Homo sapiens: one gene and its partners. The protein of the gene in region 7 purifies or fractionates together with the protein of the main gene of each other region. This does not show direct contact. Each region holds a gene or a part of one and is shown on either strand. Other genes may lie near its edges.

Region 1 (3,500 bases), on a different chromosome or scaffold from region 7:
ACTATCTGCAAATGTCTGTGAGGCTATAACTGGAGAGGAGGCTCTTCCACAGGGCTGTGGGAAGCCCTCCCAGAGGCCGAGGCAGACTCCCACCTGCCAGGCCATACCCAATAATGACCCCTGGCCCCAGCACTCTGCCCAGTCTCCAAGGAGGTGCTGGATAGTCACAGGGGCATAAAGAGCACCTCAACAAAGGGAAGTCAGCTGAGACAACCTTGAAAGCTACTTCACCTCTGTCCACGAGGGCTGAGCTGGGCCCAGCATGCAGGCATGACACCAGGTACTCTCTTCCTGGGCTGCATATCCCTGCTTTGGATCCAAGGGCCAACTCTATGCCCTTGGCCAGTTAACAGTTCCAAGTCAGCTTACCCTGGGGAATCAAGCTATTTTTAGGCAAGCTATTTCTGCAGGGGAGAAGGTTCGTAAGGACTAAGATGTTTTATTTATTTATTTATTTATTTATTTATTTATTTATTTAATTTTTTTGAGACAGAGTCTCACCCAGTTGCCCAGGCTGGAGTGCAGTGGCGTGCAGTCTCGGCTTTCTGCAACCTCCACCTCCTGGGTTCAAGCGATTCTCCTGCTTCAGCCTCCTGAGTAGCTGGGATTACAAGCATGCGCCACACAGTGTGTTTTCGTATTTTTAGTAGAGATGGGGTTTCACTATGTTGGCCAGGCTGGACTTGAACTCCTGACCTCAAGTCATCCACCCGCCTCGGCCTCCCAAAGTGCTAGGATTACAGGCGTGAGCCACCATGCCTGGCCTATTTATTTATTTTTTTGAGATGGAGTCTCTGTCTGTCGCCCAGGCTGGAGTGCAGTGGCACGATGTCGGCTCACTGCAACCTCCACCCCCTGGGTTCAAGCAATTCTCCTGCCTCAGCCTCCCAAGTAGCTGGGATTACAGGCGTGTGCCACCATGTGCGGCTAATTTTTGTATTTTTAGTGGAGATGGGGTTTCACCACGTTGGCCAGGCTGGTCTTGAATTCCTGAGACCTCAAGTGATCCACCCACCTCCGCCTCCCAAATTGCTGGCATTACAGGCGTGAGCCACTGCCCTCAGCCAAGATGTTTTAAATTAAAAATGAAACCAGTCACTTGAGCCACAATGATGATCGGACGGCAAAATGCAGGTGTGCAGACATACCCATCTCTGTGCCTCACCTGGTCAATTAGCTGTCTCCTGGATGGGTTGGTCTCCTCAAGGACGTGAGCCCAGAGCTCCGGATCCTTTCTGCATACCAGGTAGCGGGCCTCGCTTTTGAACAGAGAATTCTCATTGCACACCTGAAATGAGCACACTCATGTGTGTGACACAGCAGCCAACCAGCGGAAGCTGCTTGGGAGGACACACCCCAATTCGTTCCCTGTGTGCCTGATACTGGTTTGGTGGACAGTCAGGGCCCAGGCAAGACGCTATGCTTTGACATGGGATGAGCAGCATCCTACAGGGTTAACGATGGACTCAAACTACCTCAAAATGCCCTTTCCAAGTTTACAACAACTCCCAGGGATGTGCCACATATCTGGCCAGTAGGACTTCCTGCATTCAGGGACATGCTCTGTCTCCCATTCTGTCTGATACAGCCACTAGCCATGGGAGGCTACTGAGCCCTTGAAATGTGGTGCGTGACAGGAACTAAACTGGTAATTTTTAATTTAGTTAAATTTAAGTACTCATATGTAGCTAGCTTTAAACCATCTGTAAAATGTTATCAGAACAGCCTAGAACTGGTATAAAACAGCACAAACACTGCAATGTTTCAAGATCTAAAAACTGTAAACTGTGCTTTCACTGGTAGATCTGGAGACCTTTTTCTGAATGTTATAACAGATCTCCAAAACACCAACAGTCCACTGGAATGTTCTAGCGTGTGCAGCACTTGCTAAATCCTGGTGAGGATCAGATCTGTTGAGTGCCAGATGCCCGGCACAAGGCTGAGCGGCGTGCACACGTGCTTGCGGATGCAGCGCAGTCCGCCTGTGTATCACAGGAAAAGCCCAAGCAGGCTGGTGTGGCACCAACCTCACAGGTGCCCTATTCATGTCTGGATTTTTAGATCAAATGATTAGGTAGGAACAGTTCATACAATTCAACCTAAACATGTAATTATATGTGGATCCAAGCCTGGGCAGATGCAGGCAAAAGACCTGGGCAGATGTCTCAAGGAGAGGCCAGCAAGAGCTCATTGGTCAGGTGATGGGGAAGGGCTTGTGTAGAGGGTTACCCCAAAAAGGGGGCATGAAGTACAAGGGTACTCGGGACATGAGGCACCCAGGGAATTGCAGGCCTCTCCAGGTGGGGTGGCAAGATGGATGGCTGATCAAGTTCGGGAGTTGGGAAAGGTGGCAGTCCACAGAGGAGCTCACGAGTCAGGCCAAGGAGTTCAATTCTGCCCTCAAATTGCCAGGCAATAGTAAGGACTGTAAGCAGAGGGATGATAAGTCAGGTTCAGGACCAACTGGTCTACAGGTACAATGCATACAAATTGCATGAGCAAGTTCCCAAAAGCTGTGAGAATCACAAGGAAATAATCTCATGACCTGCCATCTCCAGGTGCACAGAAAGCCCTGATCAGCTCCCCACAGGCACACCTTTGAAAGCTTCCCTGGGAGCCCAGGGTTACATGGGCAGCTCAGCACATCTGCTACCCACCTTGATGAGCTCAAGGTCACACTGCCCCCGCTCATAGGCAACACAGGCCAGATGGGGGTCTCGCTTCTCACAGTAGCGGCCCACCACGCTGCTGTCATAGTAGGCATTCTCTCTCAGGAAGCACTCGGGGCTGTTGTTGCTGTCGATGTAGATTTTAGCCAGTGCATTGTGAGTGGCAGGCTCCTCACAGCCTTCCTGAATCTGGGACTCCAGCCAGGGAAGCAGCAGCTTGAGCCTTTGAAAGAAGGAAGGTGCTGTAAAGTCTCAAGGCTACCACTGGAAGTCTTGAGGGCAACTCCAGGGCTCTGACAGATGTTTCCTGAAACAAAAAATCTCAGAGTCCATTGACTTCAGGTTGCTCTAGGGACCAAGATGGACCTGGTTTCCAAACTGATTTCTACTGTTAGGTTTTCCCCCAAGGTCTTCACAGTACCAATAGCAAGTAACTCATTGCTACATCTAAGATGTGTACATGAACGACCAGCTATAGAGACAGTCCTGGAGAATTAGACAGAAACAACAACAGACACTAGAATCCAGGGGTAAGAGAAAACACCAAGTAAGGACACCTTACCTATTTCTTTTTTCTACTTCAGCCACCAACTCATCAGTAGAGAACTGTCCTCTCACTGCCATGATTAAGTGTTTAATCACTTCCTCAGAACAATCCACATCAAGCAGCCCTCCAATCACAGCTGGGGTCCGGCTAGGGTTGACCTAGGGTAGTCAAGGTCAAGTAACTTCAGTGTTGCAAACACAAGTTATTGTTAGAAGCCTCCTACGACGTGGACAGTTTGGGCAAAACCCTGAAAGGGCTCCTGTTTAGCACTGCGCTGTGTCCCA
Region 2 (3,500 bases), about 19 Mb from region 7:
ATAGAGATGATATTTTATAGGATTATGAGGATTAAATGTGAAACAGTATAGTACTTGACATACAGTAAACTCTTGAAACATCTATTACTGTTATTACTGTTACACACAAAACAGTATAACACTAGAAAAATCAAAGGAATACAGTGTTTGTGAAAATAGAGATATCATTGTCAGACTAGGTTATTTGTAAGTATGTAGGAACTATATCTTCATCCATGAAATCATTATTTTCAGTGAGTACTCTCTCTTAAGACTCAGTTTAGCCTACATATAGGACAGCTAATTTAAATACCTCTGTTGTTTATGCCTTGTATTATTTTTGCTAAATCATAAATGGCTTCTACTTTAATATTGCAAAGCATATTGCAGAAATACCCTTTCAAAAGACATGTTGAGGAATAAAGTCTTTGGAAAGACATATCGCGAATTCCATCTGCCAATTCTTAATATTTTGTTCAGCTTGTTTTGTGTATTCTCAAGATTTTAAAGTAACTGCTAATGTAAAACATTACTAAAACATAAAAAGATTTATTTCATAAATGCAAATTGAAGCAGACAATTTATTCTTAAGAGACTGAACAATATCAAGAAAAAGAATCCTCTAAAATATGTGATACCAAATTCATGGTGTTTGACAATGGACAAACAGTATATACAAGGAAAGCACATTGGAGAAAGGGCTTTCTGGTTATTCAACCCCTCAAATTGGCAAGAAATTATTTGGCTTACCAGGGCTCTTTTGCCTGAAAATTAAATACAGGTAAAGGAACGTAATATATTCCTATGTTTGAGCCAATTTATAGCTACTTATTACTTGTGGATAGATTTAGCTAACGAATTATTAAATGTGAGTGATTTTGTTAATGTGCAACAGTGCACATGAATGGTTTGTACTTCATTTAAGAAGAGTCTAGTTAGCCAATTTTAGAATATTTCATTTCTTTTTTTTTTTTTTTTTTGAGACGGGGTCTTGCTCTGTCACTCAGGCTGGAGTGTAATGGTGCCATCTCTGCTTCAGCCTCCTAGGTTTAAGCGATCCTCCCAAGTAGCTTAAGCGATCCTCCCAAGTAGCTGGGACGACAGACACATGTCACAACACCCAGCTAATTTTTGTATTTTGGTAGAAATGGAGTTTTGCCGCATTTCCCAGGCTGGTCTCGAACTCCTGAGCTCAAGCAATCTACCCACCGTGGCCTCCCAAAATGCTGGAATTGCAGGTGTGAGCCACTGTGCCTGGCCTAGAATATTTGTTTTGACATGAATTTTATTTAGCTTCTCAATTCTTAGGACAGTATTTAAGTTCTAGATAACTTTAATATAAATAATCTTTTATAATTTTGCACACACTCATCATTATGTGGTAAACGTACATGCGTGCTTTTTCAACAACTATTGAATGAAATGTTTCATTCAAGAATTCTCATTCAAATAGCTTATATTTTTATAGTAGAAAAAAGGCATGCATTGAAAATTCAATTTTCGGGTTTTTTGTTTGTTTGTTTGTTTGCCATTTGTTTTCATGCATTTTTAGTAAATCATTAAAGAACAGTGCAAGGCCAGGTGCCGTGGCTCACAACTGTAATCCCAACACTTTGGGAGGCCGAGAAGGGAAGATCTCTTGAGCCCAGTAGTCCAAGACTAGCCTGGGCAACACAGACCTTGTCTCTACAAAAAAATTAAAAAATTAGCCGGACATGGTGATGCATGCCTATAGTCCCAGCTACATGGGAGGCTGAAATGGGAGGATCACTTGAACCCAGGAGTTGAAAGCTGCAGTGAGCTGTGATTGTGCCACTGCACTCTAGCCTGGGCAACAGAGTGAAACTTTGTCTCTAAAAAAATTTTTTTTAATATTAAAAAAAAGAACAATGCTAATAGGCATACTGAGCCTTTTTCTATTAATTTTTCTCATACTAATTTTTCATTTATCACTTTTTAAAGTGACTTAGGTTATACGGTTGAAACTACATGTCTTAATTTGTAGTTAAACCCCCATGGTTAAATAATTTTTTTTTTTTTTTTTTTTTTTTTTTGAGACAGGGTCTCACTTGTACCCAGGCTGGAGCGCAGTGGCATGCACGATCTTGACTCACTGCAGCCTTGACCTCCTGGGCTCAATCCATCCTCCCACCTTAGTCCCCCAAGTAAGAGGGACTACAGGTGCTTACCACCATGCCCGGCTAATTTTTTGTAGAGATAGGGTTTCATCATGCTCCCCAGGCTGGGCTCAAACTCTTGAGCTCAGGCAATCCGCCCGCCTCAAGCCTCCCAAAGTGCTAGGATTATAGGCGTGAGCCACTGTGCCCAGCCAGTAATATCCTTAGTTTGATGTATTTGGCTTATAAGTTCGGTACTGAATGGGGCTTTGAAGGATGGCCTGTTTCTCACTAAGCATGTAAAATGTTTAGCCCTGTCATCTGCTGTCCACTCAGCAGCGAGAGGGATTCTTTAAAAATACTAAGTCAAATGGGTTCAGAATTCTCCAGTGGCTTCTCATCTCATTGCTTAATTGCCTGTACAGATCTGGCTCTTTGTTGCCCCGCCTGTGATCTCTTCTCCCACCACTGTCCCTCACTTTCTCTGTTCTGTTCAGTGGACCTCCTGTATTACATAGTATGCACTCACACTCGTCACTATTTTTTTCTGTGCTTGCCTTCCTCTGTTACATGTATTCATCTCCTGCCTCTGATATGCAAGTTCCTTGAGGGCAGGAACTTTGTTTTGTTTACTGCTGTATTACTAACTCTTAGAACAATTATGACACATAGTAGGCGCTCAAATATTTTTGAATGAATACATTAAATTTGGTAAGTTGATATTTATTACAGAGGATATCCTTTAAATCCAGATATTTCTAATAATAAAAGCTAATAGTTATTGAGCATTTGCCATGTGCCAAGAACAAAGGTGACAACATTGTTATGTTCAATTTTCTTATGAGGAAATTGGGCACAGAATGCCAAGAGTGTGCCACAGATAGCACATCTAGAAGATAGTCTAGATTTAAATCTAGATGATATACTTTCAGAATATGTATTTAGCAGTTTATGCTAATCTTTTACAAGACATCATGTAAACAAAAAAATTGTTATACAGGCATACCTCAGAGATATTACAGGTTTAGTTCCAAACCACTGCAATAAAGTGAATATTGGAATAAAGCAAGTCATACAAATTTTTAGTTTCCCAGTTCATATAAAAGTTATGTTTCCACTATGTGGTAGTCTATTAAATGCACAATGGTATTATGTTTAAAAAAGTACATACCTTAATTTAAAAATATCTTATTGCTAAAAAGTACAGCCATCTGAGCTTTCAGCAGGTATTTATCATTCTGCTGGTGGAAAATCTTGCCTCCATGTTGATGGCTGCTGACTTATCAGGGTTGTGGGATTGCTGAAGTTTGGGGTGGCTGTGGCAATTTCTTAAAATAACAATGAAGTTTTCTGCATCATAGATTCTTCCTTTCACAGATGATTTCTCTGTAGCATGCAATGCTG
Region 3 (3,500 bases), on a different chromosome or scaffold from region 7:
CCAAGTTAAAGAAATAGAAAATAAAAGGTGATTTAGGGGAAAACCAGTGATAGTGATTAGAAGGGAGAAGAAAATATGAAAGTAGGATAAACAAGGAAACAGACACTAGGTTATCATATAAAATGCATACCATCATGTTCTGCTAGAGGTGGACCCAGTTTTGGCTTTGAGCTTTCTGGTGACCAATACAAAGAGGGAAGTGGGACTAATTGCATAATTTATATTATTGATATGATTAAAAAATACACTGATTGCCATAATATTACAAACAAGCATTATTAGAAATAACAGTGTTCCTGTTCTGAGACTTAAGGAAAATGTATTTTAAATATACCTGGGAAAAGACACATAGTAACAATTTTATATAGCTGTTTTTTATCACTAAATGTTTTCGGAGGGCACAAAAGGATGACATGAGAATTAATTTGTACTTATAGAAAAAAATGTGCGGATTGCACATACTCAGGCAATGCTTCATAAACAGTATTTCTCAATGAAGCATTGGCTAAGTTTGAATGGTGGTGAGTTCAAGGTTGTACTTGCTGGATCAATAGCCTTCTATAAACACTCTGTATTGCTCTCTGTGTCAGGGTATACTTGGAACAGTGAAGAACTCCACCAAGTGGCTGAGAGGAGACCCAGCCTCCTCCATGTGAAGTTGAAACAAATCACTAGTGGTGAATTACTTGAAGCAGCATTTTCAGAGGTTCAGGATACTCATTTATAAGATCAAAACTAAGATAGATGGGGAGGCCGAGGTGGGCGGATCACCTGAGGTCAGGAGTTCGAGACCAGCCTCAACATGGAGAAACCCCGTCTCTACTAAAAATACAAAATTAGCCGGACGTGTTGGTGCATGCCTGTAATCCCAGCTACTCAGGAGGCTGAGGCAGAAGAATTGCTTGAACCTGCGAGGTGGAGGTTGCGGTGAGCCAAGATCATGCCATTGCACTCCAGCCTGGGCAACAAGAGCGAAACTCTGTCTCAAAAAAAAAAAAAAAAAAAACCTAAGATAGATGGTATATCTGATTTTAAAACAGTGGCAAAGTCTTGGCTTAGATGTGGCTTATAAATTATATTATGTATGCATTCATTTTAATTTCTCAGTAAGGACAGTTTATAATAGATGATCCATTAGCCAAGATAATTAGTGTTAACAGGCACTATCTTCCTTATCTCTGAAGCAGACCTTTACCCATATGTGAAGTCATGCAAGAGCCTGTGCAATACCATGCACTCCAGAAATGTAGATCAATTCTTTCCAGTTGAAATAAGCATAATACTTCGTTATATCATTCTTAATATTTTTTAAATAGACAACTAAAGACAATCTATCCCATTAAAAGTAGGTTCTGTTATCAGTGATAGTAATTATGGTTTTATACAAATAAAGGATGCATTTAACATTTTATTAAAAATATTTCCTACACTTACAAATATTACTTACTTTTTTTTCTCATTTTAGGTTCAAGTTCCTTTGAATCTCAGAAGATGGAAAGGCCTTCCATTTCTGTTATTTCTCCAACAAGTCCTGGAGCTCTAAAAGATGCCCCACAAGTCTTACCAGGGCAACTTTCTGTATGTATTTTTTGTACATGTTGGAGGCTGTTAGTATTTGCATACACTGTCTGAGTCTGTCTTTAAATATGTTCGCCTTTCCTTGAAGCCTGCAATAAATACATAGTCATTTAACACCATAATCTACTTCATTAGTTTTTCATGCATTTTTTATTATTCCTTTATTCACATATTTATTCAGAAATACTTACTGAGTGCTTGCAGTGTGCCAGATACTCTGAACATTAATTGATGAATGGTAACATAAGTAAATAAAGAGTTCATATTTTTTGTGTGCTATGTAAAAGTTTCTAAGGTAAATAATTGTTTACACATAATATTAGGAGTTCATACCCCATTTATGTAATAACCTTATGAGCCTAGAGCCTGAAGAGCCTAAATTTGGAATATTCTTTTTAACTTCCTAAGGCATTTGGCAAAACTCTTCGTTGCCACTGAAAGCTCTCTGAAAAAGCTACCATTTTCTCACTATTGCCTTATTATGTGATCTGGGGAAACCTGGAGTGAAGAAACTAGGGTTAAGGATAATGAAGAACCATATATTTGTAGATTATGATGGAAAATGTGATGTTGATATTATAATTTAAGGACTTCAAACTATTTGTTTCAAATTGTTACACAAATAATGACCTTTTGCTCCTCTGATAATGTGTGGATTTCTGTGGTTTGCCTTTGTGGTTTTCTCTTGATTTTAATGAGACAGAGAAGATATATGTAAGCTTATTGCTCAAGGGCTTTTATGGTTTTAACTTTTATTTTTAGTATATTGAATATCTTTGTAATACCCTTTGGGTTTATCTGCCGGCCATCTTTTTCTTCAGTGTATGTGTAAATCTCTCATATTCTCCACATATTTTGAAAGAGGATGGAAACCCATTCTGGTTCTGTGAAACCCCATCTTAGGTATCAATTGGGAATCAGAGAAATGGATTTACACAGATCCAGGTTTGAATTCTTAATCTGTTCCTTACCATGAAAAGCTAATCCTATGTTAAATTAGTTTATTTTGTTTTAATGACTCTCAAATATGTTCTAACATATACCTATTAACAGCATATGCTTACTTAAACATAAAATGAAAAGTAACTTCTAAATTAAAGGAAAAAAATTAAAGTTAACATTGTTAAAGTGTCATCACCACTGCCAGGGCAGATACTGTAATAATGACTGATAAAATTCCAATTCTTGTGAGTTTGACAATAGGATTTTAGTACGTTACTTCCCCATTATTCTTTGGTCTACTGTCATGAAATCTTGGTTAATAGAAATATCATTTGGCCTTCTTGTAGTTTGAAGATGTCATTTGTGTATTGTATCCTTAGTTTTTTCCTCCTTCTCTCATGAAAAATAACCTGTAATAGTTTAATTCTAAAAATTAAATGACGGCTTGGTGCAGTGGCTCACACCTTTAATCCCAGCACTTTGAGAGACTGAAGAGTTCAAGACTAGCCTGGCAACATAGCAAGACCCCCGATTCCACAAAAAATTTAAAAAACTGGCCAGACATGATGATGTACACCTGTGGTTCCATCTACCTGGGAGGCTGAACTGGGAGAATTGTTGGTTCCAGCAGTTTGAGGCTGCAGTGAGCTATGATCATGCCACTGCATTCCAGCCTGTGACAGAGTGAGACCATGTCTCTAAAAAATAAAAAAATAAGTGAGAAAAAATACCAGGAAATACTAAACGGTGCCTGTATAAAATAGGCCCACAGTAAATATGTTTTATGATCTCTTCTAATTCTTTGTATTTCTTATTCCTAATATCCAAACTCTTGTTTTTTTTAATTTTAACTACCTGTGACACCAGAGAAAGCATTTAGTCACGCTATAATAATTTAGACACATATAATCTTCAAACTCTTATTTTTAACATTTAAGAACAATAATAATGATTTTATGTCTCCCTCTTCCCTTAGTTTT
Region 4 (3,500 bases), on a different chromosome or scaffold from region 7:
TACATCCAGCAACCCAGAAACCAGCAATTGCTCAGTTCCCTGTGGTGTCCCAAGGAGGCTCTCAACAGCAGCTAATGCAGAATTTCTACCAGCAGCAGCAGCAGCAGCAACAACAACAGCAACAGCAACAGCTGGCCACAGCCCTGCATCAACAACAGCTGATGACTCAGCAGGCTGCCTTGCAGCAAAAGCCCACTATGGCAGCAGGACAGCAGCCCCAGCCACAGCCAGCTGCAGCCCCACAGCCAGCCCCTGCCCAGGAGCCAGCGGTAAGAATCAACCAGAGCTCAGAGCACAAAAGCAGCAGAGGAATGTGCAGCGAGAGCTAGGGGAAGGGTGGGAAAGATGGCAGCAGCTGATGAGGGTCCAGGTTGCTTTCCCACCTGGGTGGTTCAATTATTTGATCTTTCCTTGATATATCCAAGAATAGTATGGATGTTCTATAGAAGATAGAGGTTTTTTTAAAAAAGGATTCTAGGCTACTGATGAAGAGCCTTCTTAATTTTTATCACTCTGAAACTAGGCTAGCAGGAAGATCTGTTCATCATCTCTGTCTGTGTCACTTTGAACAGTCAAGGACCTAGGCAGGATTAAAGCTAATCCCTTTCTCTTCTTCAAGGGGCAGTTTGATCCATTGTGCCCTTTCCAGGCCCTGGGTCCTCCATGTTGTGTTTATTCTTTGTCTTGGATGACATTACTAATCACATTATTTAAGTTTACCATGCAGCTCCCGTCAAGGGCCTGCTTACCTGAGACCATTCACCCTGGTGTAATCCCCCTGGGTACCAGAGCATCTGAGTATCCAGTCATTTGAGCCATCTTATCAATTTAGAAATTGGGCATGTCCACTTTTAGATATTGGCTGAGTATGGCATCAGAACCCCTCGTCTGATTGTCCTCTACAGTTTCAACACACACGGGCACATCATGCTTTGGCCTGTGATAAGTGGATTTTTTTCTGTACTCTTATTTTTCTGAGTGATAGTGATAGAAAATGTTATGGTGTTAGAAAAAGACATTTTGCATACCCAGCTGGTAGAGTGTCACAGCTACCCTGTTACTCCCAGGGAAGTCTAACTACTAGAGGAACAAAGGAAAAGTAAGAAGCCATCTTTCTGCTGGGCACAGTGGCCTCACGCCTGTAATCCCAGCACTTTGGGAGGCCGAGGCGGGCGGATCACAAGGTCAGGAGATCGAGACCATCCTGGCTAACGTGGTGAAACCACGTCTCTACTAAAAATACAAAAAAAAAATTAGCCGGGCGTGGTGGCAGGCACCTATAGTCCCAGCTACTCGGGAGGCTGAGGCAGGAGAATGGCGTGAACCCGGGAGGTGGAGCTTGCAGTGAGTGGAGATCATGCCACTGCACTCCAGCCTGGGCCACAGAGCAAGACTCCATCTCAAAAAAAAAAAAGAAACCATCTTTCTGAGGATTGATTTCTAATAGAGTTTTGTCTCCCATCTTAAACCAGAAAACCTACATCGCTTCGAAAGGAAGCAGTGCCGTAGATTGTCTTCTTTAAGTCTTAGCTAAGTGTGTGTTTAGTGTCTTTACACCTTCGTTTCTAAAACAACTCAGACTTCCTGCAGGCATGGAGTAGACAGTGAGTCTCTGTATTTTTAACAAGAGGTAAAGTTCCTCTTCTTCATGGAAAAAGAGTTTTTAAAAAAATTAGTACATGAGATAGCTAGAAGGGACCTTAATTATTCAGTTCAGCCTCCTCATTTTACAGAATTGGAAACTGAGGCATAGACTAGAAAGTGGTTGCCCAAGACATACGAACTGATGGTAGTGGAGCTGGGGCAAGAATCAAAGAATCCTGATCTGTGTTTAAGTTTAATTATAACAAATGCTCATCCAGGGTGATAAAATGATCAACTACTACTGACTACACTTCTTATGAGGTTCCCCTATGCTTCTCCTACACAAAAGTGTCTACTCCCTTGGGAATGAATTATGAACTTTCTCCGTGTTCTTTGGATGAAAAAACACTTTGAACACTTTGCTCTGGGATAGTTGGTTTTGGGGACAGAGAGGAAACAGAAATAGACCATGCTTTGGCCAGGAGCCATAGAGCTTCTCAGCTTTGACCCATCCTTGTCTCCGCTGACTCTTGGCAGGGCTAATCTAAAGAAGCAAGTGAATGAAGGTAAAGCGTACCCTGTAGCCATCTTAAAGCAATAATTAGCAAAGGGGAAATGGCCATTTGCCCTAGATGTTTATTGCAGTCTTATTAATAATAGCCCAGAGAATTTGGAAGCAACCTAAATTGCTGAGAAACCCAACTGTGCAGCCATTAAAAAGCACGGTTATAAAGTCTGTACAACAGTATGAAAAGAAATGCTCATGAGGTAATGTTAAAGGAATTGTGAAATTACGGAAAAACTATACACTTGAAAAGAGACTTAAAGTATAAGGTACCAAAAAGATAAGGATTGTATCTAGTTGTATTAGAGTGATGGAATAGAAGTCTGTTTTCTATATTCTTACATTTCTTGATGTGATTATACTCCTTTTATAATTACATTTTTAAAAAATCGTCAGCAAAATAGACATCTGAGTCTTTTTATTCCTTCTCCCGTGGTCTCTCTGTCCCTCCTCCCACTTTCCAATCCTGTTTGGATGGGATGGCATCATGGGGCAGAAAAGAGTCCTGAGCCACAGTCAGGAGACATGGGCTCTGCTTCCAGTTAACCCTGTGACCTTGAATGAGCATTTGGCCTCAGTGCAGGAGTTGAAATCTGCATTTTCTAAGGTCCCTTTAAACTCTCACATTCTTTGATTCTAAGTGGAAGTATAACTGTCTGCCAGGGTTGCTGGGAGGCGTAGCTGAACAGATACAAACCACTTAGTGTCTGTAGATTGCTGTTATAGGGCAAGGTGTCCTGAAGGAGGCATCTAATCTTCAGTGTGCTGCATCTGGAGAACAGAAGAGAAAAATGTTCTCCAAGTGGTAAGAAAACTATCCAACTCCTTTCCTTTATGCCATCAACCTCGAGACAAAACAACTTCGGATGTAAAATGCCCTGGAGATTTCACCATCCCTTCCCTCCAGTCCTTCATCTCAGAATAGAGTTGTCACTGGACTCTTCAAAATAAAGGGACCCAACAGTTTAGTATTCTTTTCAGATTAATGAATGTCTCATGAAATAAGCCCATTCAGTGTATCCTCAAAGCCCTCTGACCCCTATGTGTGGTAGTATTCAGCCAGCTGTTACAGGCACAACTCTGGACCCCCAGAGGAAGTTGTGGAGCTGGAGCTGTGGTTGTCTTCACAGAGCACTCTGCCTCTCCTTCAGCAGGGCAGCTTTGTTACCCTTCTAACCTCTGATTGATATTAGAACCTTATATTGTAACATTCAGCCTGTTGGTTAAGTGGATGGAATACTGACATGTGTACATAGTCTACCTTAATAAATTTTCCAAGTCCTGAGGACAAGATGAGGGCAGTCAATATCCCAAGCTAGAAGCATCCTGACCCAGGTAGCTGGATAGTCTA
Region 5 (4,211 bases), on a different chromosome or scaffold from region 7:
CATCTCTGACATGGTTGGTGCTCCTGATAATCTGCCTTTTAAAAAAGTGAAGACTAGCTAGGTGCAGCAGCACATGCCTGTAAGCCCAGCTACTCGGGAGGCCGAGGCAGGAAGATCCAGAGCCCAGTTCAAATCCATCCTGAGTAACAGCAAGACCTCGTCTCTTAAATTAAAAAAAAAAAAAGGAAGATGACAGAACAAATTTGAAGAAATTAGAAAGCTATCTGGTTCCACAGTTCTACCTAAAAACCCATTCACACCACAAGTCCAAATTCCTAAAAGCTATGAAAACCATTTTTTCCTAACTCACTTGACAGCAAATCCTGGTCTATCATAATAACCTCATTTGGGATAAAACCTGACATGAACTGATATGGGGTTAATTACAGACTTTAATTATCCCACAGTGAGAATATTTATTCATTTAATTACAGAAATATTAATGTATTCAATTACAGAATACTTTCCCAAGTCTTCTGGGAGTATCCCACGATATACAGGTTATATGCTGCAATGACCATTCTGAAACCTGAAAAATTCTGGAAGTGTAAACATCTGTACTCAAGGGTTCAGATTACCAGCCATCACCATGTTTACACAAGACAGCCTAAACTCCCATAGCCTATGTTCTAAGGTTGCTGTTCAGACAAAACTTAATTAAGTATGTTTATATAAAATACTTAATTCAGCTTTCACACTCTGTTTCAGTTCAAAGAGGCTTCAAAGTACTTAGGAGGCTGCAGGCCACCTATTAAGTTTACAAGGAGGAAATCTACAGCTCCTAATTGCATTGGTTATTTTTATCTCCTGACTTGCCTAGATAGCAAAGGGAAACAAGTTCTTTTGCACAACCTCAGCAGCTGCCCACATTTCCTTGTTCTTCTTCCTGGGTGCTAAGTGACCCACAAGCTTCTTTCTTTATACGAATCTTCCTCTCCGGGCCCCAGTGAGGGTGCATTCTCCATCCCTCCCACCAAGATCCGTGCCATCTTCTGCTTGGCCCCTTCCCAAAGCTCACACTGTCTGTACCACCCCTAAGGATCTGTCCCTGTGCTGCCTCTGTCTCTCCACCCCTTGAGCACAAGTCTGAAGTTCCAGAAAGCAAGTCCTGTCCACAATAAACTTCTTAAAGAATGAAGATAACCACCTAGTATTTTCAGAATAAATGATTTGATCTGAGAGAAATCTTCCAACTGATGTGAAAGAATATCACACTTCAGCCCCCACTTCTGAAAGAAGAGCTTAGACTTTCTGACCAAATCATACCCAAAATCTGTTTGGTTTTGACCACAATGGAGACAAAGTGTGTGATAATGCTACAGTCAAAATGTCTCCGCAGGCCTTTTGTGATAATCAGAATTCTGGGATAGTCTCCTGTCTGGTCACAGAGCAGGCACCTGGACAGGCTAACCCTCCAGCCCTGAGAGGTACCAGGGAGCTGGTGAGGGTGAGGGCTTTTGTGTCGCTTCACTCCCTCTCCCTGTGCCAATACAGCAGAATAGAGTTACGCTTCCGCACCCAAGTCAACTGTGTTTAGCCCATAAACTTCACAGCCAGTGAAATATGACACACCTCCAGGCACCACTGGACAAAAAATGTAAGGAAAATCCACAAGAGAGAATGGGACCCACTGGCACTGGTGATCGATTCCGTGTGAACGGAGAGGACATCCAGGGAGCTAGAAATAGCATGCAGAGACAAAACTGACTCAAGACTGACTCAAGAGGACTTAAGCCGAGTGACCTGTCCACTCTGCAAGTTCTATATAGGTCACAACCACTGGCTCTGCTTCCTGTACTACACACGGAATCACACGAGTAGATGTTCACCGGGAAGAGAAACACTGAGGTGTTGAAAGACGAAGGGGGATCACGAGACACAGCCCAGTCTACCCTCGGCCAACCCCCCCACCCCCCAGGCTACAACCGCAACTACCTGCAACACGTGTGCACCCACCAACTCTCAAGTTCCCTGGACTGTAGAAGAACCAGCCCTAACCTCCAAAGTCCAGTCCTGTCCCTGCCTGCTCAATAACCCCAGATGTCCGGCAAAAGGCCAAGGCTTAAACCCACCTCCTGCACCGCTCACCTCCTGACTCCAGCTGTCGGCCTTCTAGGCACCGTCCCTCAGTCTCCGCTGTGGGTCCCCACCCAAGCTCCCTGCCTGCCACCATCCCCCACCTCACCGTAACATCTTCCCCCACCCACCCTGAGGGGGTTCCCCAAGCCCCAGGCCTTGCTCCGACTTGACCCTACTCTTATGACAAGAAAGTACCCCGACCCGGTCCCAGCCTCGCCCTCCGCAATCACCGCCAGCAGGCACTCACCTACGCCCGCGCTATGACCTTCGCCTGGCCCTGACCCACGCCCTCGGCAGAGACCCTCCCCTGGCCGACCCTGACCCACGATCCCGCTGGGACCCTCCCCAGCCCTAACCCACGCCCTTCCACTCCGGGCTGACGCTGCCCCCAGCGTCCCGGAGACAACACTCCGCGGCCGCACCCGCGCTGCCGACCCGGGGCCTCACCTTCGGCCAGGACCCGCCGCACCCGCAGCCGCAGCTCGCCCAGTTCCACCGTCTGCCCCACGAAGTCACTCTGGTCGCGGCCGGAAGCACCGCCCAGGGAGCCTGGACCCGCCAAGAAGTCGAGCGCCGACTGCAGCAGCGACATGGCGGTGGCTGCGCCGCACCCCGCGGCAGCCGGAGTGGTCGGGCTCGGGCTCCCGCTCCCTCGCCGTCCGGGTCAGCTCAGCAACCGCCGGCCCGGAGGTGCACCATCTTCCGCCTCGACGCCGTGACGTAGGCGCCCGTGAGGACGCGTCGCGTCAGGCGGCGACCCGGCCTAGCCCCGTCCCCTCCGCCGCGGCCTCACTTCCTGGCTGCGCGCGCAGGCGCGGAGGTCTGACGGAGACAGCGCGTGCGCGGCGTCGCCGGGCTTGCGATGAACTTCCGGCTGTCAAGCTCCCGGCCGGGCTGACTCAAGCGGAGGCGCGCGGAACAGTCGCCGAGGCGATTCCCGCCCAGGTAGTTCAGCGCCCCAGTCCAGCTCCCGGTACCGTTCCCCACATGGTCTGTTTTGTGGGAGGCTCCTTCTCAGGTGTCTCCGGTTTAAGCGCTTCGCCATCCTCTGGGTGGAGTCAGCCTCCCGTTTGCTGTTAGCGCCGCGTTTGCGAATGGGTTCGCGAATTTTTCTCTCAGTTGGCTAAGGAGCAAGGAGTTAGCGTGCGTTAAGCTTTCAGTAAATACTTGGTTTTCGTCTCATGGAGGTCGGAGTTTCCTGTGACGCTTAGTGAGTAAGGTTGGCAGCCCCCTCCCAGCAGCCAGGCAGGCAGTTTGCAGGGGAAACGCTGCTGCATTGCTCTGTCTTCCGAGGAGAGGGCCAGGGTCTGGCCTGGGGCAGTGACCAGTAGTGGGAGCCGTGGGCTAGAAAAACCTTCGTCCTGGGCAACCACAACACTGCAGAGACTGCCCTGTGACCCTCAAGGTTCGTTCTCACCCTGACATTTTCCAAGGCAAAAGCAAATCCTCATGAACCACTTGGAAGGGTTCGTAATGCCCAACTATTTGGAGATGAAATGGTGACTTTCCTTATAGGATAATAAGGAAATGGCTCACAGACAATGCATTTTTAGTTTTTGGCCCACACAGTATTTGGGGGTTGGGAGTGGGTAGCAGGAGGTGAATTAGTTGCTATCATTTAAAGACTGATGCCAGGCGCGGTGGCTTACACCTGTAATCCCAGTGCTTTGGGAGGCCGAGGCAGGCGGATCACCTGAGGTCAGGAGTTCCAGACCAGCCTGGTCAACATGGTGAAACCCCGTCTCTACTAAAAATACAAAAATTAGCCGAGCGTGGTGGCGGGTGCCTGTAATCCCAGCTACTCGGGAGGCTGAGGCAGGAGAATCGCTTGAACCCGGGAGGCGGGCGCCACTGTACCCTAGCCTGAGACTCCGCCTCAAAAAATAAATAATAATAATAATAATAATTGAAAGGCCTAAATGTTAAAAACCTAGTTTTCCAGCTTCTGTGGAAAAATCAAACCTGTCAATATTGGACCCAAAATGATGTGTGTTACCAATTACCTAGAGTGGTCCCTTGAGGTAAGACACAGTCATTTGCCTGACCAGATGGGCTCATGTATGTTACCTGCCTGGTTCCTATAGTCATTTAAGGTTGCAACCCCTTCAACAGAGTTATTTGTTCTCCAACTC
Region 6 (3,435 bases), on a different chromosome or scaffold from region 7:
GTTTACTGTTTTCAAAATATTTGAGATTTCCTTTCTGAATTCAAGGGGTATACAGATGTTCACAAAGATTTTTTACTGTGATATAAATAAAAACAGCGACACATCCTAAATGTGCACCTGTGCCGTGGCTGAGCCGCTGCAGTGAGGGCTAGTGTGCAACACCGATGCTGTGCTGGACGCGTGCCCAGCCGGGTCCCCTGACAGGAGGCAGCCGGGGCCGGTGCGTGTGTTTGCATGTTGCAGTCATGGGGCGGGGCCGGCAGAGGCCTGTGTGATTGTGGCGTCCCTGGAAAAGATGCTTGGCAGGCCCCTCCAGCTGTAGCCCAGCCTGCAGACGGGGCGTTCTGTGGGTCCTTCCCCGTGCATATGCGTGTGATCTCACCCATCCCGTGTGGGTGCGCAGGAGGGGCCGAGGGAGGAGGGTGCTGGAGGGCGGAAGTTACCTCTGACTGGAGGAGATACCCGGCCCGTGTTACCAGCACTGGTGTGCTCGTTCTAAAACTGGAAAAAATTTGTTCTTAATTTTAACAACAGTCATACATCACAACAGTGAACTTAAATTCAGCTGAAGATTGTGGGGGGCTCTTGTTTTTCAGGGTAAATATTCAGGGTAAGTGTGAAATGGTGTGTGTGAAAAAATTGTTTTTGTTCCTTCTAGGTCGGATGTTTATCTTTTATGGTAATAAGACCTCCACGCAGTTCCTAAACTTTACCCCAACACTAATCTGTTCAGACGACCTTCAGCCTAATATCCTTGGCTTCATTGCCCCATGCCCGCAGACAGCATAATGTGGGGCTTAGAGGAGGCTTTTGAGGAAGTTTTTTGGTTTTCTTATTTTGTTAAAATAGCGAGATAATTCCAGATGCTATATGAAAATCAGGCAGTCGTAATCTGCCTATGGTGCTGGGCAGGAGAAGGAAAACAGGCAGTCTTCCATATTGGAGAGCCAGCTTTTGATCATGCACCTAAAAATACCGTGTACATGCCTCCTCCCCTTCCATCTGGCCAGTGTGAGTCCCTTTCCTTTTCACCTGCTCTTACTCTCCTGTGACGTGATCTTTAAACCCCTCCTCTCCGAAGCCTCACAGAGCTGCTGCTTGCAGAGTGTGGGAGGCGCCAGTGGGGACTGGAGCGCGGTGCGCACCCCAGCCGAGCTTGTGTGTGCTTCTGGCAGAGCTTTTAGACTGAAGATTTTCCCTTCGTAATGCCAGAAGCGTTCCTAGAACTTCCCCAGCTAAAACAGGGAGACGCTAACGTCTCTACCTCTAAGGATAGGCCCGCCAAATAGAGTTAGCGTGAAGACCCCAGCTTGACCAGAGATGGTGACACCTGGGGATTTATGGTCAGCGACCTGAGTGAAGCAACATCCTCCTTGCCACTGGCTGGTCTGTTCATTTTAACATGAACATGTTTTAATGCAGACTGTTCAAGCTGTTTCAAAACAGTCATTAAAAATACACATGCAGGAGCACCTGTATTAAAGACTTTGTTTGGAATCTGGAGTGGAAGCTCTGACTCCTACTGCGCCCTTCTTTAGGGGTCTCTCCCTCGGGGTCCACTTGGCTCGAGGCGGCAGCGAGCCCAGCAGCTGAGTGGCCGGCGGCACACGACCCAGAGGGAAGGAGAGGCCTGCACCCCGCTGCCTCCTGGACCCAGCTTTGCTGCTGTCACTGTTTCTTCAGGAGAGGCTGTAGGCAAACCCTTGTTTTCCAGCATGAAAACAACCCTGGTCCCAGCAGGGCAGGCTCTTTTCTGTGTCTCGCTGTTTCAGGAGCCTGCTATTCCTGGGATTCTTAAAGTTTTCCTGCCCTACTAAGCACCAGTTTCTGCTAACGGTGACAAAAATTGTGTGTGTAAGACCCAGAGCCGAGGCTCAGAGTGAAAACAGACAAGTAGTATATAATCTAAGTGACTTTTTAAAATGGAGGAGCCATTCTGGAAGCGTGAGAAGCAGACAGTGTTTTGAGGATTGTCTGGGTGGAAGGGCAGGGCCGGGTGGTGTGGCTGCCCTCGACCCGTAGCTGGTGGTCCTAGAGTGTGGTGAGTGTGCTCGCCTCCACGGGTCCTGCTGGGGCTCTAGCCCGGCCCGTTTCCGCTTCTGCCACTGGGACTTGCTCAGCTGGATTCCTTAACGCACGCACACCTGAACCTGCAGACCAAGCCCGTGGACCCGACCGTGGAGGGGGGCGCGCAGGTGCAGCAGGTGGTCAACATAGAGTGCGTGTCCGACTTCACGGAGGCGCCAGTCCTCAACATTCAGTTCAGGTAAGAGCCGCCTGTGCGCCCCGGGCCAAGGGGTGTGTGGGCGCCTGAGCTGTGTGCCTGGGCTCCATGACTGTGCCTCCGTGTCCTTCCTGAGGGGACCCGGGGCGTGCGGGTGCTCACGGTGCATGGATGCGGCCTGAGCTATTGCTGCCCCCGGCTCTGCAGAGCGCAGGAAACAAGGGGAGGCGGAGCCCTGGGCTCCGGGACGGCAGGTGGCAGCTCCCACATGGGGCCTTGCTAGGATCTTTCTGGGCACCATGGGGCCCACCTCATGGGGTGGCAGACAGCCAGGGCCCCCGCGCCACCTGCCCGGCTTGGTACCAGACGACAGCTGTGGGGTGCAGGCAGCTGGTTTCCTTCGGCCCCCTGGCCTGGGGGGCGCGTTTTTTGCTCAGTTGAGCTCAGATCGTACCACTTTGCTTATTTTTTAAAAGCATAGGATTTTCCTGTTGCGACTGTTCATTACTCTCACTTTTCAGTGACTACAAATAGCGTGGATACAGTCAGCCCGTCCCCTGCTGGGTGTCTGCAAGGTTAGGAATGTTGAGAAAAGCACACTTTCTAACATTAAAAAGACAGAGAACTTAAGATTGTATACTGTAGAATTCGGGGACATAGACATGCAAGTTTTTGTTTCATTCTTTGTGCAAATGCCTTTGCCTTTTTAAAGAAAAAACATCACACTATTTGCACAGACTTGGAGTTCTGGGAAACAGATGAATGGGGAGAAGTGAGGCACAGGGACGTCCTGCCTGAGTATGCGGCCCTGGCCTGTCCTCCTGTCTGTGGGTGACACTGGACACTGAGCCACACACGATCCGTGGGGACTGAAGGCTCGGCCCCCCGACCCGCTCTGGTGGGTGGCAGTAGATCGGGACGCTTCTCACTCCAGGCTCTTTCCCGGTCCCTGGGGCTCTCAGAGGAGTAGCTGACTGTCTCTTTCTGCTGCTGCTGCTGCTGGCAGGTATGGGGGCACCTTCCAGAACGTGTCTGTGCAGCTGCCCATCACTCTCAACAAATTCTTCCAGCCGACAGAAATGGCTTCTCAGGATTTCTTTCAACGTTGGAAGCAGTTGAGCAAGTGAGAAACCTGTTTCCTGTAGGGGTCAGGGGTGGGGACGGGGCTCATTTGAAAAGGTGGGTTTTGGTCTCTGGCCTGGCTGAGAACA
Region 7 (3,500 bases):
AAACTCCTGGCCTCAAGTGATCCTCCTGCCTTGGCCTCCCGAAGTGCTGGGATTATAGGCATGAGCTACCATGCCCAGCCCCATTTTTCAAATGAGAAAACAAAAGTCAGGCAAGGTTAAGCAATTTCTCCCAGGCCTTACAAACATTTCATAGTATCAGAGGTGGCATCTGAACCGAGACAGCCTGGCTGCAGAGTCCAAGTTCTTTCCCATGGTGTGATCTGAGCTATGATCATGCTGCATATCTCAGGGATGCTTCTCTACTCAACAAACATCTACTGAGCATCTGCTGGGCCAGGCACTGTGCTGGGCTCTGGGGACATAGCAGTGAAAAGGACAGAGATGACATTCTGATGGCAGAGACAGACAAACACATTATAAAGTAAGGTCCTTTTGGGCTGGTCACGGTGGCTCAAGCCTGTAATCCCAGCACTTGGGGAGGCCGAGGCCGGTGGATCACCTGAGGTCGGGAGTTCGAGATCAGCCTGACCAACATGGAGAAACCCCGTCTCTACTAAAACTACAAAAAATTAGCCGGGTGTCGTGACGTGTGCCTGTAATCCCAGCTACTCAGGAGGCTGAGGTAGGAAAATCGCTTGAACCTGGGAGGCAGAGGTTGCAGTGAACCAACATTGCACCATTGCACTCCAGCCTGGGAAACAGAGGGACACTCCATCTCAAAAAAAAAGTGAGGTCTTGAGGTCTTTTTGGACTAAGTGTTAGGAGTTAATACAACCACAATAGAGAGTGATTTTAATGACGGTAACACAAGGGACTCACTGTGCCAAGCAGTATTTTTATTTTTTATTTTTATTTGTTTATTTTTTGAGACGGGGTTTTGCTCTTGTTGCCCAGGCTGGAGTGCAATGGTGTGATCTCGGCTCACTGCAACCTCTGCCTCCCGGGTTCAAGTGATTCTCCTGCCTCAGCCTCCGGAGTAGCTGGGATTACAGGCATGCACCACCACGCCTGGCTAATTTTTTGTATTTTTAGTAGAGTCGGGATTTCTCCATGTTGGTCAGGCTGGTCTTGAACTCCCAACCTCAGGTGATTTGCCGCCTCGGCCTCCCAAAGTGTTGGGATTACAGGTGTGAGCCACTGCGCCCGACATTCTTTATAATTTTTAACTCATTTCATCCTTATGTCCTCCCATCAGAGTGCATACTGTTATTTAGCCCATTTTATGACAAAGAAAGTGGCTGGCACACGCTTTCTTGAGTCTTCTGCTTTGGGGGTATCAAAACCTATAACTGGGCCAGAGGCAATGATCAGGCACAGAGAGGGTGAGTAACTTGCCCGCAGTCACACAGGTGGCGGAGTGTTGCTGGCAGAGGGAACAGCAAGTGCAAAGATAGGTGTAGTCACCAGAGACAGTGGGTATGAGGTTGTTTGAGGCTGAGTTATCCAGACATGAGTGGGTCCCCAGCAGGGGCAGCAGAGACAGCGGGGCAGGTGTGCTGGCTGGATAGACTGCTGCGTGTTTGTGTTCTAGGAGGCCAACGGTCCTGCTGATGGCTACGCAGCCATTGCCCAGGCTGACAGGCTGACCCAGGAGCCTGAGAGCATCCGCAAGTGGCGAGAGGAGCAGAGGAAACGGCTGCAAGAGCTGGGTGAGGGCGGGGCTGAGGCGGGGTTGGCTGGGTGGGCTGTGTGTGGGGTGGAGTGTGGGGAGTCCTCGGAGTGCATGGGATGCTGCATGCCTTAATGTGGGACTGGGCCGGTGCGGCCCTGTGGCTGCCTGGCAGGGGCCAGGGGAGGAGCGCGGCCGGGCCTGTGCATCCCAGCTGGAAAGCAGCCACTCATTCTCTTGTGGGGTCCTAGATGCTGCATCTAAGGTCACGGAACAGGAATGGCGGGAGAAGGCCAAGAAGGACCTGGAGGAGTGGAACCAGCGCCAGAGTGAACAAGTAGAGAAGAACAAGATCAACAACCGGTGAGAGGGCTGTAGGGACATGAGGGGGCCATGGGGACATGAGGGGGGCTGTGGGGACATGAGGGGGCCGTGGGGACATGAGGGGGCCATGGGGACATGAAGGGGTGGGGACATGAGGGAGCTGTGGGGACATGAGGGGGCCGTGGGGACATGAGACGGGCTGTGGGGACATGAGGGAGCTGTGGGGACATGAGAGGGGCTGTGGGGACATGAGAGGGAGCTGTGGGGACATGAGAGGGAGCTGTGGGGACATGAGAGGGGCTGTGGGGACATGAGAGGGGCTATGGGGACATGAGAGGGGCTGTGGGGACATGACTGAACACTGCCCAGTGCTCCCTGCCTTTGAGGCTCTGTCCTTCACGGTACAAGGTCTTCCAGGAAGGGAAAGGCCTGTTCTGGGAAGCTACCCTTCTGTCTAGGGAACTGCTGCATGCCAGGCTCTGGGGTAGGCACGGAGGAGATGGAGATAAGGAGGACCCAGCCTTATGTCCTCAAAGGGCGCAGAGGAGAAAAACACACATGTTCAACTAAGCTCAAATACAGTAGGGCCCTCTGCACGAAGGCCATGGAAGCAAGGAAACAGGTCAGGGAGAGACCTCTGTGTCTTGGGACTTGGGCTTTGGAAGATGACTAGGAGGAAAAAAGGGAAAAAAGGGCAGGAGGTAGGGGGGCATTCTAGACCTGGGTACGAAGAAAAAAATGTGATGTATTAGGCAACAGGGGGCCAGGGAGCGGTGGGAGAGAAGGCAGGAACCTGTGGACTCACACTGTAAGGGCCTTGGCTGATGAGTTGGGCAGTGACATGGGCAGTGGGGAGCCACTGAAGGTGTTTGAACAGGAGTAACATGATCAGGGATGAATTTTAGAGAAGGTGCTGGGGCCAGGGTGAAGGTCCCCATTCTCCTGTTTGGGGCTGTGGGTCGTTGCTGAGCCTTCCAGAACTATGCTTCCTAACATTTCTCCCACTGGAGGTACTAATGCTGTCTCTCTCTCTCTCTCTAACCTTCTGCCTGCCTGTCTGTCTTGCCATCTGCCTTCCCCCACCTAACCCCTTCCCTCAACCTTTCCCTCAAGGATCGCTGACAAAGCATTCTACCAGCAGCCAGATGCTGATATCATCGGCTACGTGTACGTGTCTGTTTTGCTTCTCTGTTGGGGGAGCTAGAGAGGGAATGGCCACCACAGTTTCTTGAGTTTCCTGCTTGTGGGATATAAATGAGTGTGGCTGGGCTCGGAGCAATGGTCAGAACAGGAGGCAAATGCCCTGGTGGGTGCAGGCAGCAACCACCTCCCTCCCTCCAGTGAAGTGGAGGCTGCTTGGCTAAATCAGAGCCTTGCAGGATAAAGGCAGAGAAAGGAATGTGCTTGCCACTTATTCCCATGTGGGAGGGGCAAATGGCAGAGCACCCCAACTCCCTCCCTCTGTGATGTCTCTTGGTGGGTGTGTGGGGTGAAGGGTTTTTTGTTTTTTGAGATGGAGTTTCGCTCTTGCTGCTCAGGATGGAGTGCAGTGCTGCGATCTCGGCTCACTGCGACCTCCACCTCCTGGGTTCAAGCGATTCTCCTG

Evidence for each region.
Region 1: the proteins of CLTB (region 7) and CLTCL1 purify together in Homo sapiens (affinity purification with mass spectrometry; 3 studies listed by BioGRID and IntAct, with this or other methods). This does not show direct contact.
Region 2: the proteins of CLTB (region 7) and CLINT1 purify together in Homo sapiens (affinity purification with mass spectrometry; 2 studies listed by BioGRID and IntAct, with this or other methods). This does not show direct contact.
Region 3: the proteins of CLTB (region 7) and RIMS1 purify together in Homo sapiens (co-immunoprecipitation; one large-scale study listed by IntAct). This does not show direct contact.
Region 4: the proteins of CLTB (region 7) and AAK1 purify together in Homo sapiens (affinity purification with mass spectrometry; one large-scale study listed by BioGRID and IntAct). This does not show direct contact.
Region 5: the proteins of CLTB (region 7) and GAK purify together in Homo sapiens (affinity purification with mass spectrometry; 2 studies listed by BioGRID and IntAct, with this or other methods). This does not show direct contact.
Region 6: the proteins of CLTB (region 7) and AP2A2 purify together in Homo sapiens (affinity purification with mass spectrometry; 2 studies listed by BioGRID and IntAct, with this or other methods). This does not show direct contact.

Annotation. Positions count from the first base shown.
Region 1 is NC_000022.11:19,218,720-19,222,219, forward strand, and holds part of CLTCL1 (clathrin heavy chain 2), read right to left. Parts: intron 3,375-3,500; coding exon 3,232-3,374; intron 2,893-3,231; coding exon 2,658-2,892; intron 1,289-2,657; coding exon 1,166-1,288; intron 1-1,165. UniProt on the Homo sapiens protein: Clathrin is the major protein of the polyhedral coat of coated pits and vesicles. Two different adapter protein complexes link the clathrin lattice either to the plasma membrane or to the trans-Golgi network.
Region 2 is NC_000005.10:157,849,146-157,852,645, reverse strand, and holds part of CLINT1 (clathrin interactor 1), read left to right. Parts: intron 1-3,500. UniProt on the Homo sapiens protein: Binds to membranes enriched in phosphatidylinositol 4,5-bisphosphate (PtdIns(4,5)P2). May have a role in transport via clathrin-coated vesicles from the trans-Golgi network to endosomes. Stimulates clathrin assembly.
Region 3 is NC_000006.12:72,246,550-72,250,049, forward strand, and holds part of RIMS1 (regulating synaptic membrane exocytosis protein 1), read left to right. Parts: intron 1-1,465; coding exon 1,466-1,578; intron 1,579-3,500. UniProt on the Homo sapiens protein: Rab effector involved in exocytosis. May act as scaffold protein that regulates neurotransmitter release at the active zone.
Region 4 is NC_000002.12:69,511,240-69,514,739, reverse strand, and holds part of AAK1 (AP2-associated protein kinase 1), read left to right. Parts: coding exon 1-269; intron 270-3,500.
Region 5 is NC_000004.12:929,517-933,727, forward strand, and holds the start of GAK (cyclin-G-associated kinase), read right to left. Parts: upstream 2,801-4,211; 5' UTR 2,672-2,800; coding exon 2,527-2,671; intron 1-2,526. UniProt on the Homo sapiens protein: Associates with cyclin G and CDK5. Seems to act as an auxilin homolog that is involved in the uncoating of clathrin-coated vesicles by Hsc70 in non-neuronal cells. Expression oscillates slightly during the cell cycle, peaking at G1.
Region 6 is NC_000011.10:1,005,870-1,009,304, forward strand, and holds part of AP2A2 (AP-2 complex subunit alpha-2), read left to right. Parts: intron 1-658; coding exon 659-748; intron 749-2,142; coding exon 2,143-2,266; intron 2,267-3,230; coding exon 3,231-3,347; intron 3,348-3,435. UniProt on the Homo sapiens protein: Component of the adaptor protein complex 2 (AP-2). Adaptor protein complexes function in protein transport via transport vesicles in different membrane traffic pathways.
Region 7 is NC_000005.10:176,396,040-176,399,539, reverse strand, and holds part of CLTB (clathrin light chain B), read left to right. Parts: intron 1-1,492; coding exon 1,493-1,610; intron 1,611-1,821; coding exon 1,822-1,933; intron 1,934-3,007; coding exon 3,008-3,061; intron 3,062-3,500. UniProt on the Homo sapiens protein: Clathrin is the major protein of the polyhedral coat of coated pits and vesicles.